3 separate regions of the Homo sapiens genome follow, and all the other regions are linked to region 2. The links come from fine-mapping of genetic effects on gene expression. A gene starts in region 2. Each other region holds a variant in brackets. All regions are shown on one strand. Distances are from middle to middle.

The links. PIP is the estimated chance that this variant, and not a neighbour inherited with it, causes the effect.
Region 1: its variant is the best candidate, but not a certain one, in a credible set for the expression of GS1-24F4.2 in sun-exposed skin (GTEx, PIP 0.53).
Region 3: its variant is the best candidate, but not a certain one, in a credible set for the expression of GS1-24F4.2 in esophagus mucosa (GTEx, PIP 0.62).

The regions. Positions count from the first base shown.
Region 1 is chr8:6,902,179-6,906,410 of GRCh38, forward strand. No RefSeq gene overlaps it. Among named protein-coding and RNA genes, the nearest start is that of DEFA6, 22 kb to the right of the region's middle. The variant A/G (reference allele first, on the strand shown) is at 1,871.
Region 2 is chr8:6,833,028-6,837,259 of GRCh38, forward strand. It overlaps GS1-24F4.2 (a long non-coding RNA gene), which reads left to right and starts at 2,527. Exons shown (of 3, transcript NR_045217.1): 1 at 2,527-2,590; 2 at 2,939-3,194. XKR5 (XK related 5) reads right to left here and starts at 2,497. Exons shown (of 7, transcript NM_207411.5): 1 at 2,409-2,497. The coding sequence starts at 2,466. RefSeq lists an enhancer at 879-1,747.
Region 3 is chr8:6,861,112-6,865,343 of GRCh38, forward strand. No RefSeq gene overlaps it. Among named protein-coding and RNA genes, the nearest start is that of DEFB1, 15 kb to the right of the region's middle. The variant G/C (reference allele first, on the strand shown) is at 1,972.

The sequences.
Region 1 (4,232 bases), 69 kb after region 2:
ACGGCAACTTCTGCCCTCTGGGGTCAAGCGATTCTGGTGCCTCAGCCTCCTGAGTAGCTGGGACTACAGGCATGCGCCCCCACAGCTGATTAATTTTTGCATTTGTAGTAGAGATGGGGTTTCACCATGTTGGCCAGGCTGGTCTCGAACTCCTGACCTCAAATGATCAGCCTACCTTGGCCTCCCAAAGTGCTGGGATTACAGGCGTGAGCCACTGCGCCTGGCCCTTTCTAGTGCATTTGAATCAGTCTAAATATCAATGGGTTCCTTATTAGTTTGCCCATTTATTCATGGATGTTGATTGACTGCTTGCTGTGCATCTGGGAGCCTCCTGTCTCCCAGCTGGCTGTGCCCTCAGCAGCAACACTCTTGTCCCTCCCACGTGTGGGCCTGAGTCAGGGTTCACTACTGTGGGGAACTCGTGAGGGATTTGGACAGTTTTGGTGAAGTGCAGGCCACCATTCTTGGAGATTGGTGGAGGTTTCTTAGCCTTCTCGGCAACAGGCCTCAGCCATGGGTGGGGAGGCTTCTGTGACCTTGGTCTGCAGCCTGGAGGACGACACTTCCCCTGCGCCCGCCCTCCCTGTTTCCTGGCTCCACTTGCAGGGGCTCTGTCCTGATGCCAATCACATGGAGTCACAGGACAAGCAAGGTTCCTTCCCTCCTAGAACTTCTGTTTTACTAGAATAGGTTAACCCAGTGGAAAAGACGGACAACAGACCCATAAACTCTGTGTGTGTGTGTGTGTGTGTGTAAAATATGGTGTCAGGCAGGGGAAAGTGTGTAAAAAATTAATCAGGATAAGTGGATGAAGAGGTTAGTTTAAGAGGAGGCAGTCTGAGAAGGCCTCTCTAGAGAGGGAGCCACCAATATTGTATACACGCACGCGCACAGACACACACAGCCACACATACACACACACACACGTAGACACACTCACACATACAGACGCACCCACACATACAGACACACACAGACACACACACAGACACATAAGCACACAGACACACACACATACAGACACAGACACACATGCACAGACACACATGCAGACACACACACACAGGCACACACAGATACATAGACACACACATGCACAGACACACATACACACAGATACACACAGACACACAGAGACACACAGACACACACGCACAGACACACACACAGACACACAGAGACACACACATACAGACACACACATGCACATGCTGACCCACGGGTGCACATACACACACAGGCTGAGCCGGCTGGTATTTCCTCTCTTCCCCTGTTTTGCCCAGACACGCAGGCATCACGGTGTCTGCTGGCCACATCCTCCACCCAAACGCAAAAGCTGGGAGAGGAGCCTAGAGGGTAGGTAACAATAAGGTCAAGGGCAGTTGCTGCCTCAGAGGACACATCCCAGATGAGGCACAGGCTGGGAAGGAGCCCAGGGGCAGCAGGGACCCAGGGGGAAGAGAAAGGACAGGGGGAAGAGAAAGGATGGGGGAAGAGAAAGGACAGGCTGGATGAAGCCCCCCCACGATTCTTTCTGACCCAGCATGCCCTCCATCCACCATCCCTCAGCCCCAGTCACCAGCGTAGGCGCTCCAAGGACTGGTGTGAACTGAGGGCATGAGTGCAGCCTGGGGCACAGAGATGACTGTTCTCACTGCAAGCCTATCAAGCCCTCCTGGCTTCCACTCTGTGCTGCCTGAAATGTCTATAAATGGTGTCTGTAAGTCTGTGGCGTGTAAAGGCTGCCTTCCTCCTCCCTGATGTGCATAAGGGCAGAGCTGTAAGGTGAATTCTAGCCCAGTGGCGTATGCGAGCTGGACAGGTAGAGTGCAAGTACTTGCCTCCCTGAGTCTCTGTCTCATCCTGGGAG[A/G]TAGGGTGACAGTGGCCTTATAGGACTGTTGCTGTGGAGGTCAAATGGGCTAAGGCCCAGTGCCTTCTGTGTGGCTAGGCTCATGGCTGTAGCATTGCAAGAATCCCAGGCTTTAGTGTCTGCGACTGTGAATTCCAGCATGGCTAATTATTAGACAAGTAACTGGGAGTATATAACCAAAGTGCCCGGGTCACATTTTCTGTAGCTGCAGAACAACACCTGTTTTGCATAAGACCAGATGGCAAAATGTGGGAAAATGCTGCACTGAATACAAGTTTGGGTTGACTGGCTCCACCGGGCCCAGGCGTGTGGCAGTTGTGATGGAATCCACTTCACGTCTTCCTCTGACAGGGTGTGTGTACTCAGCCCAGGAGCTGGGGAGACCTCATGTTCATATTAGTTTGGTGCAAAAGCAATTGCGGTTTCAGACTGTGAATTTTAAAAAATTATAACTAGGCTCAAATACATTTTTATTAGTCAAAATAGGAACCATTACAATCAACACATTTTTGCCAACAAGAAATAAGTTTGTTTATTCCTGTAGTGTAAAAATTTGTGTTTCAGGATTTGAGTAACTGTTGGAAAGCATTTTTCTGCATCCTGCTGGTTGCGGAAGTGTATTCCCTGCAAAAAGTTGTCCAGATGCTTGAAGATGTAGTTGGTTGGCAAGAGGTTCAGGTGAATATGGTGCATGAGGCAAAACGTCATAGCCCAATTCGTTCAAGTTTTGGAGCATGGATCGTGCAACTTGGGGTCGGGCATTGTCGAGGAGAGAATTGGGCCCTTTCTGTTGACCAGCGCCAGCTACAGGCATTGCTGTGTTCGATGCATCTCGCGGATTTGCTGAGCATACTTCTCAGATGTAATGGTTTCTCAGGGATTCAGAAAGCTATAATGGATCAGACCTGCGCAGACCAGACCACCAAACAGTGACTATGACCTATTTTTGGTGCGAGTTTGGCTTTGGGAAATGCTTTGGAGCTTCTTCTCAGTCCAGCCACTCAGTTGGTCTCCACCGCTTATCGTATAAAATCCACTTTTCATCGCATGTCACAATCTGATCAAGAAATGGATTGTCGTTGTTGTGCAGAATAAGAGAAGATGACACTTCAAAATGATGATTTTGTTTTTTAAATTTGTGTTTGGCTCATGAGGCACCCACTTATTGAGCTTTTTCACCTTTCCAATTTGCTTCAGATGCCGAATGACCGTAGAATGGTCGACGTTGAGTTGTTTGGCAACTTCTTGGGTAGTTGTAAGAGGATCAGCCTCGATGATTGCTCTGAACTGGTCGTGGTCAATTTCCCGTGGCCGGCCACTACGCTTCTCATCTGAACCCCCACTGTACTGTGTGTTCATTAGCAGTTCCTGGACCAAATGCGTTGTTGATGTTGCAAGTTGTCTCTGCTGCTTTATGACGCATTTTGAACTCAAATAAGAAAATTGCTCAAATTTGCTTTTTGTCTAACATCATTTCCATAGTCCAAAATAAATATAAAATAAATAGCAAGTAACAAGCCGTTAGCCAAAAAAAGTGAGAAATGTGCATTGAAATGTATAATATAACCACATTTATTTAGGAAGCTATTCCAATGTCAATTAGCAAATTTCCACAATACAAAAACTGCAATTATGTTTGCACCAACTAATAGAAAGCTTTCTATGCAGATACATGGAAAAGTGGGAGCTCCTAAACAGCAGGGACCAGGCCATATTTCTTATAGTTCTTGCACTCTGGCCACTTTTCGCATAGTAGCTGCTCAGTAAATAAGCACAGAATGAGTGTGGCTGTAGTTCCATGTTCAGCTTAACGGTACAACTAAAGTAATTCTTGACCCACAGCTGGGTTGAGCTATGCATGCCGCTGGAGCCCACTCACTGTGTGGTCCTGTTCGATTCCAGTCATCCACCCACCCATGAGCACAGAAGAGAGGGGTCCTGTAGAAGTCTAATACCCCTTCTTCTCAGGCCTCTGTTATCACAACATCACCAATTCCCTGCAAACCCTCCCAGAGCTTGCAAAATGCCAAATCCCAAAGGTGCCATGAAAGGATCCATGGCGCCCTGGATCCCTGGCAGAATCTTTTCCACGGCAGGATCTTTTAAGGGAGTGGTGGAGAGGGTGAACATTTGACTTCAGTTATCTTTTTCAGTGAAGAAGCCACTAAAAGTGATTCTACCATGGGAGGGACACCAGTGGAGGAGAGAAGTGGGGAGCACCAGGGGCCACTAGGATTCTGGGTGCTTTGACTGTATTTTCTCATTTAATTTCAGAACCCCAAATCTGAATAGCACCATGTCAAAATAACTAAAGAGATAAATTTCATGAGAGCTAGAAATAATATTGTCATGACGGTTATTA
Region 2 (4,232 bases):
GGGAGTGACTGTCCCTCCCAAGGCTAGCAATTATTTCAGCTAGCAAAGGGCCCAGCCAGGAGCTTGCCTTTGACATGCGAACTAAATCTAGCCAGAGCCAGACCTCCCCTACCTGGCCCATACCCCCGCAGAAGGCAATCTTCTTTTGCCTTAATCATCCCAGGGCCCAGTGCCAGGAAACTAGGGACCACCCTTATACCCCAAAGCCACAGAAATTATTCAAAGGGCTAATCTGAAGCTGGTGCTCTGCCCTAGCAAAGCGTCTGGCCTCAACTTCCCCTGGTTCCTGTCTCCTGCCTCCTGACCACCCTGGTGACATTCCCCTGTGGCCCGGCATGGTGTGCCATGTCTCCTGTCCTAGGACCTGTGAGTACAGCAAACTTTGCTTTCCAGAGTCTCTCCTGTGTCTCATCTTGTGGCCACACCTAATTATCTCATTAAAAACAAAACCAAAGCACTTTGGGAGGCCGAGGTGGGCAGATTGCTCGACGTCAGGAGTTCAAGACCAGTCTGGGCCTCTCTACTAAAAATACAAAAATGAGCAAGTTTGCTGGCTGCGTGCCTGTAATACCAGCTACTCGGGATGGATGAGGCACCAGAATGGCTTCAACTCAGGAGGCGGAGTTTGCAGTGAGTCGAGATTGGGCCACTGCATTCCAGCCTGGGCCACAGAGCAAGACTCTTGTCTCAAAACAAAACAAAACAGTAACCAACCAACACAGTGTCCCCATCACCAGCAAGAGTCTCCTAGGAGCAGGCTGGGAGCCAGCAGAGCCTCTGGCAACAGGGACAGGCATTCACTAAATGACATTGTCAGGGCTTTCCAGAGCTGTTGGGCAATATACGACATGTGTGAAGCGCCTAGCATCTTGTGCATCCTCGAGAACGATGAAACCTCCTCTCTGGTTTGTTTGCTTGTTTGTTTTTGATGGTGGTTACGCAGTGGAGAGAGAATGTGCACTCCGCAGTCAGTAACTCCGCACTACGAAACCGTTAGTCCCTGTGGGGTCACAGCTCTCTCTGTGGGGTCCCTTTTCTCCTACTTTCACATGGGGAACTCCCTGGCCTGGAACTCTGGGCCTCCCCAATACTCCTAGCACGGCCTCCTCAGGGTTGTCTGAGGCTGATCTTGGAGGCGGTGCGCTGGTAGAGGCACCGCACACAGGCATCGTTTCACACAACTGTTACTTAGGTTTTCCAATAGTAAAGTTCTAAGTGGATGAATGAACACAAGCCGCGGATTTTAGGGAAACTGGGAAAACTGCCCTGAGGTACAGCTGCAGACGCTGCAGCTCTAGACCGCGGGGTCCGGGCTCAGGCAGCCCTTAGCGCCCAGGCTGGGTCCGGCTGTCACCACCCCGAGCGTCCTGCGGCAGCCTCCCTTGCACGAAAAGCCTTCGGTGCTGCAGGGCTGGGGAATGCTGACACCCAGTCCGTGCCCAGCTGGAGGGCAAGGGAGGACACCTGGGGTGGGTGCCGACCCCCGCAGGTCCTGTCTCAGCCCTTCCAGTCCGGGGCGCGGAGCCAGGGCGCTTGCGCGTCCTCCGTGTGCGTCCTGCTCGGCGCGCCTCGGAAGCAGCGGGACCTGCGGGGACGCCCGCGAACTCAGGGAAAAGTCCCAAGGCGGCGTTCCCAGGGTACCCCCTCTTCCACCCCAGGGACTCTGCCCGGGAAAAAGCTTCCGCAGGGAGCCCGGCGGAAGTGGGCGGAGACGCTCCTCCCGGCACTGAAGGAGTTACGCGTTCAAACCAGAAGGGCGCGAAAAATGGGGCCATCTTGCTCCGCCGCGGCTGGCGGGCTCTGGGTTCCCCCTGCGACGGAGGTGGCCTCGAAGGGCCGCGTCCCGCCCCGTCCTAAACCCCGAAGCGGAGTCGCCGTCCTACAGGGCCGCGTGGATGCGGAGCCCTGTCCCCCTCCCCCCGCCACCCCTTCTGCGAGCGGCCTCCAAGTCGCAGGGTCCCCCTGGACGGCCGGGGGTCGGGGGAGAGCCCGGGCGCCCCCAGACTTGCGCTCAGCACATCTTGGCATCGCAGCACTTTGCAAAGCTTGTGATGGAAGGAAGGGCGGATACATCTCCCCTGCTTCTGCGAGGGGATCTTGCATGCGTGGGGCGGGGGGATCGTGCATGGGCGGGAGGAAGTCAAGCACCAGTCGGGAGGGGGGGGAACCGAGCATGGGTGGAGGAAAATCATGCATCCTTGGGGGGATGGTGCATGCGTGGGCATCTACTAAGGACGGGAGGACGTGCTCTGCAGGTGGGATGGCCACCACCGTGCGTCACCGGCGCGCAGTGCTGGGCGCAGGCTGGGGCAGTGCCCGCCCGGGCATAGGCAGCCTGTGCGGCTCCCGGCGCCGGGGTGGGGTTAGGGGCTGCAGGGGTGAGCACAGCCTCGGGCTGCCGCACTCACGCGCGCTCTGCTCGGCCGCCTGCAGCAGGGCCGAGAGCCCCAGGAGCCTCGCGTGCATCTTCCGTGCCGACCCCGCAGCCTGCGCCCGCCCCTTCCCCTGCACGCGGCCCCGCGTCGGGGAGGTTTCCGGCCCGGGGCCCGACTGCGGGTGGCATTTCTGGCTAAGCCGTTAGGCGCGAATTGTATGTCTGGTTTATTCGTAGTGGCCAGCAGGGGAGGGAGGGAGGATGCTTGGGGTTTCTGGCTTCCAGGGTGGGTGGGGACGAGGTGGTGGAGTCCAGCTCAGGTCCGGGCTCCTGATAAGGGCAGAAGCGGGTTCTGCGCTGCCCCCAACCCTGTAACCGCCAGGAAAGCGCTTGGTGAGCGTCGGGACTGCGCAGGTTCCTCGGGAGGTGGCTAAACTGGCCACCGCCTCTGGGGCCGCCTAAAGCAAGTCCGTTAACCACTAGTCAGGGAGGAATACTGTGTTTGAGTAAATATATGTAGAGTTGGGTTAGAATCATTGATTGGGTCTTTTTGAAATCTTACAGTTCTGTGTCCAGAAAACACAGGGCACGTTACCCGGTATCGTGGTCTACACCTCGCCCACAAATCCATCCCAGGCTGTATCCTCATGGAAGCTTTTTCCAGATGTGCTTGAGGGTTAAGATCGCAATGTGCAAGAAGAAAAAGTGCACATTGGAAAACCTTCTCTTCGGAGATATCTATATCTATATTTATATATATTTACAGATATGGAGATATATACACACACGTATCTGAAAACATTCTGACGTTTTAAAAACGGTAAGACAGACTTTTATTCAGAACCATTTCCTTAGATGTAAGGGACTGCACTGAGGTTTTGCAGCAGGGGAGAGAGATTGGGGTCCGAAAATAATAAGGAAAAGTGGGGATTTATAGCCAAGGAGCAGTGTGGGGGACGGTGGATGGAAAGTCATTGAGAAGGGGACATCAAGTGGGGGTTCTGGCTTCCCTGACCTAACAGGATTCCTGCTGAGGGTGGGCCAAGTTGATCCACATCGGGGATGGGGGTGGGGTGGAGCAGGTGTTGGAATTTGGTCAGATATGGAGGGTATTCAGACACCTGAGGTGGGGAATTGGGATTAAACTGACTTAGCAGGATTCTTGCTAAAACTAGACTCTGCAGGAACAGAGGAAGGAATGCCCAGGTTGGGCCCAGTCGTGCAGAGAGCTCGGAGGAGGCTGTCCAGAGTCTGATCAGGGAGACATTCTTTGTCATTCATGTATATACCCATATATTGTAATAGGCTGTTCTTGTATGACTATAAAGAAATACCTGAGACTGGGTAATTTATCAGAAAAGAAGTTTGATTGGCTCACAGTTCTTCAGGATTTACAGGAAGCACGGTGCTGGCATCTGCTCAGTTTCTAGGAAGGCCTTGGGAGCTTATGCTCATAACGGAAGGTGAAAGGGGAGCAGGCACATCCCATGGCGAAAGCATGTTCAAATTAACATAAGAAGAAAGAGAACTTGGCCAGGCACGATGTCTCATGCCTGTAATCCCAGCATTTTGAGAGGCCAAGGCAGGCGGATCACCTGAGGTCAGGAGTTTGAGACCAGCCTGGCCAACATGGCGAAACGCTGTCTCTACTAAAAATACAAAGATTAGCTGGGTGTGGTGGTGGACACCTGTAATCCCAGCTACTTGGGAGGCTGAGACAGGAGAACCGCTTGAACCTGGGAGGTGGAGGTTGCAGTTAGCCGAGATCGTACCATTGTACTCCAGCCTGGGTGACAGAGGGAGACTTCATCTCAAAAAAAAAAAAAAAAAAAAAAAAGAGAGAGAGAGAGAGAGAATT
Region 3 (4,232 bases), 28 kb after region 2:
GGAAGATGGGGGTCCGGGGGTCTGTTAGGTCTGATCTTTCACTGATATAATTTCCTCAGTTATAATTTTGCAAAGGCGGTTTCGGTCCTGCCTCTCATTACAGGGCCACTTGTTGAGTAAAAGGGTCTCAAAAGATAAAGATATTGGCTTTGATGGGGGTGATGGAGGAGAGAGGATGAGCCTGACGTCATGTCCCATGCCAGTGAGTGGGGCGTCAGGAAAAAGAAGGAGATTCTTTAACAATGGAAAGCTGCTAAAAATCTATGGAATTGGACTGAGAGACCATTAGCAGTTTTTGGAAGAAGAAACCACTTCAGGTTTGCTCCCTGGGAAAGAAAAATATCTTGGGCCCCCAAAACTCACTAAGCTAAAAGGAAAACTCAAGCTGGAAACCGCTTAGGGCCAACCTGCCTCTCATTCTATTCAACCTACCTCCCATTCTATTCAACCTACCTCCCATTCTATTCAACCTACCTCCCATTCTATTCAACCTGCCTCCCATTCTATTCAACCTGCCTCCCATTCTATTCAACCTGCCTCCCATTCTAGTCAAAGTTATCTCCCTGCTCATTGAGATGAATGCATATCTGATTGCCTCTTTTGGAAAAGCTAATCAGAAACTCGAAATAAGGCAAGTTTGTATTTCACCTATCTGTGACCTGGAAGCCCCTCCCTGCTTCAAGTCTTCCTGGCTTTCCTTCAAATTGTCCTATCTTTCCAGACCGAACCAATGTACTTTTCACATATATTGATTGATGTCTTATGTCTGCCTAAAATGTGTAAAACCAAACTGTGCTCCAACCACCTTGGGCACATGACGTCAGGACTTCCTGAGGCTGTGTCACGGGTGCGCATCCTCCACCTTGACAAACTTTCTAAATTAACTGAAACCTGTCTCAGATTTTGGGGGTTCCCATACCTAACGAGTCACATCAGTCAAATCAGTTATAACACTTTGCCGAGTAAGTTCCCATAAACGTTTTATTACCATGTTTGCCATAATTTTAAGGGAGAAAAACAAGGGCCCGAGAGTTTTAAGTCCTTGTCCAGGTAGACACGCAGGTGGGTGGTGGCAGAGGAACTGGACCCAAGGCCTTCGCCTTCACCTCTCTGGATGGTTTCTAGTCTGTTCAGCTTCAACTGTGACATCCTTTCTGCTCCAAAGCCTTTCAAGTGTCCAGTTGTACCTGACTTCTGTCTTCTTGTACATATATTCTGATTCAGCCCTGAGCCATACTCTAGGCCACAGTTGGAGGCTCTTCAATCCACAGAAAGAGCAAAACCACCTTATGAGAGATGGAGGCAGATGGAGGCAGCCAAGGAAACCATGTGTGGATGGGCCAGTCAGGCTCCTTCACGCTGGCCGGCTGGACGAGGTGACTCAGGTGTCCCATCCATGACACCTCCAAGAGCAAGATGGAGAATGAGGAAGGAGACTGAGATGAGCTGAGTTCTGATTGTATGTCAGGGGCTGGCTGGGCTGGATGAGTGCCACATAAAGGTTATCTCACTGAGTCCTCACACCTGTCCGGGGGGGTCCATTTATTCTACTCACTTTCATACACCCAAGAATGCAAGAATCAGAGAAGTTGTGCAGCTTGTCCAAAGGCCCAGGTCTGTCTGACTTGAGAGTCAGCCTGTGGTTTCCTGCCCCACGTGGGGTTCACGGTGACCTGCTTTGGTGCTGGGTCATAGTCGCTGGATGAGAGATTCTCTAGTAGCTGGAGGAAGGGGATCTAAGGGGGGCTGGGCTCACAGAACATGGGGAGGTGAGGAAAAACACACTAGAAGCTCTGGCTCAGGTGGAGGCAGGAACGCTCTGGGGTGAAATGTGTTGTCAACCATGGGATGACGGCTGCCCCGGGACAGGACATGTCTAATCACACTCTGCCCTGGTTTCTGCAAGAGTCACTGGGCTGGTTACGAAGCTATTGTTTCTCAGCCCCAAGTTCCCTACTCAGTACCTGCTTT[G/C]CGGTGGGGCGGATCTGGGAAGGTCCTGCTCAGCTCTGCCCACAGGGCAGGGAGCGGGTAGGGAGGCTGGTGGGGAGTGGGGGAGGCTGGTGGGGAGTGGGGGAGGCTAGAAGGGACGTGGGGAAGCTGGTGGGGAAAAGGGAGGCTTACGGAGAGTGGGGAGCCTGGCAGGGAGTAGGGGAAGCTGGTGGAAGAGGGGAGGCTGGCGGGGAGTGGAAAAGCTGGCGGGGAGTAGGGAGGCTGATAGGGAGTGGGGAGGCTGGCGTGGAGGTGGGGATGCTGGCAGGGAGTGGAGAGGCTGGAGGGGATGGGGGAGTCTGGCAGAGAGTGGGGGAGGCTGGCAGGGAGTGGGAGAGGCTGGAGGGAGTTGGGGAAGCTGGTGGGGAGTTGGGGAGGCTGGTGGGGATTGGGGGAGCTGGTGCAGAGGTGGGGAAGCTGGAGGGGAGGGTGGGGAGGCTGGCGGGGAGGGAGGCTGGCTGGGAGGTGGGGAGGCTGGTGGGGACGGAGGAGGCTGGCAGGGAGTGGAAAGGCTGGCGGGGACGTGGGAGGCTGGCGGGGACGTGGGAGCCTGGCGGGGACAAGGGAGGCTGGCGGGGAGGGGCTCCTCCTGTGGCTGCTTCCTGAGGCCTCCAAAGTCTCTGAGCAGGCCCCCTGACCTACGTGTACCCCGACCTGGCAGCAGCAGTTTCTTCTTGTGGCAGCAGCTGGATTTGATTTTGCGTGTTTCCCACTTAGAATCAGCCTCATAATACCCTGTTGGGACTCAGTAAGGGCCTGTGAGGTGAGGCAGGCGTGTTAGCTGGGTCTGCATCTCTTGTTCTTCCTGCCACTAGCAGACTGCCTCTAGGCAAGTAGCAGACCCAGAAGCATGATTTACCCCCAGGGGGTGGTCTGTTATTCACTCCTTGTTAGGTCGCTATCAGTCTGCATGGAAAGTCTGCTGTGAATAGGACTCTGCTAGACCCAGGGGTACAAAGTGCTCTGAGACGCAGGGCTGCTCTGGGCTGCGCTGGGGTCCAGGTGTGAGAGGTGGTAGAAGGTGCAGGGTGCGTGTGCAAGCAGAGAATGCTCAGGAGGTTTCGGTGGTTTAAGGGGAGAATGTGTCAACTTAACATAATAGAAAGGGTCAGAAACTAGTTTACAGAGGGTTTATTCAAGTGCAGAGGTTGAAAACGGGACATCTCTGGGAAGCACAGATTCCAAAGAATGGAAGTCAGTGTTACCAAGTGTAGAGATTTGGGATTGCTTTATATAAACAAAGCTTAGGGGAATTTCACAGAATTTCAACATCTGTGTAAGGCTTAATGCATAGTTCCAATGATCTGATTACTTGAGGGGGGCCTCTTTTGGAAAGGTATATCTAACATTCCACACTGCCATCTAGGCTGAGTTATGGTCGGGACTCTTAAAGAGGTGGTAAATCTGTAACAAAGGTCTGTGATTAGAAGGCGGAGATCTGGTCTCCGGTGTTTCCTAGCCATTACAGAAAAAGAAGAATGAGGAAGAGTTAAGCTGTAATCCAAGCAACAGAATTGCAAAACATGTTCCATGACCCAGATCATAGCCACACCTCTCTCAAGGCTTGAGGAGTCCTGGAAGTTCCAACAGCTTTTAAATGTAATTTATTTTCACAAATGCAAATACATATTTAAATATCCTGGCTAGGAAATGTCCAGGAATGCCTGGAGCATATATTTTAGAATACTCTGTAAGACTAATTAACAGGGGAGAACTGCCCAGAACGGGTTTGGAGGCACAGGTTGGCGGACAGAGAGCCGTGCCCAGAGCGGAAGGAAAGTGAGAGCTGGAGTGCTGCCTGGGAAAGGCCCAGAGGGGAGGAGCTCTTAGCGAAGGAGGTGAAATGGGATGTGAGGTTTGTGGGATTCGAGACACCAGGAGAAAGTTAAGCTTTGCCCAGTAGGGCTCCATAGGGAGCCACAGTGATTACTGTGGTGACTGCAGCCTTAAACAAATGGTAGGCGACTTTGTTAAAGGTGTGAGTTGAGCTTATCTAGGCAGGTATATTAGCCAGTATGTGAAAGCCAGGTATTTATAGTCGAATGTATTTATAGTTGCAATGTGTATTTCTAAACTAAGTCTACTGTGCCCAGCAAAGTGACATCAGAGACTTTAGACAGAATGCCCCACAGGCTTGGGGTGGGGATGGAGCCCCGCTGGCAACAAGCGTGGATGCTTACTGTGTGCTGAGAGTAAGTGGGGTTCTGTCTGGGGGGCTGCAGAGACAGCAGAAAAAACTATCT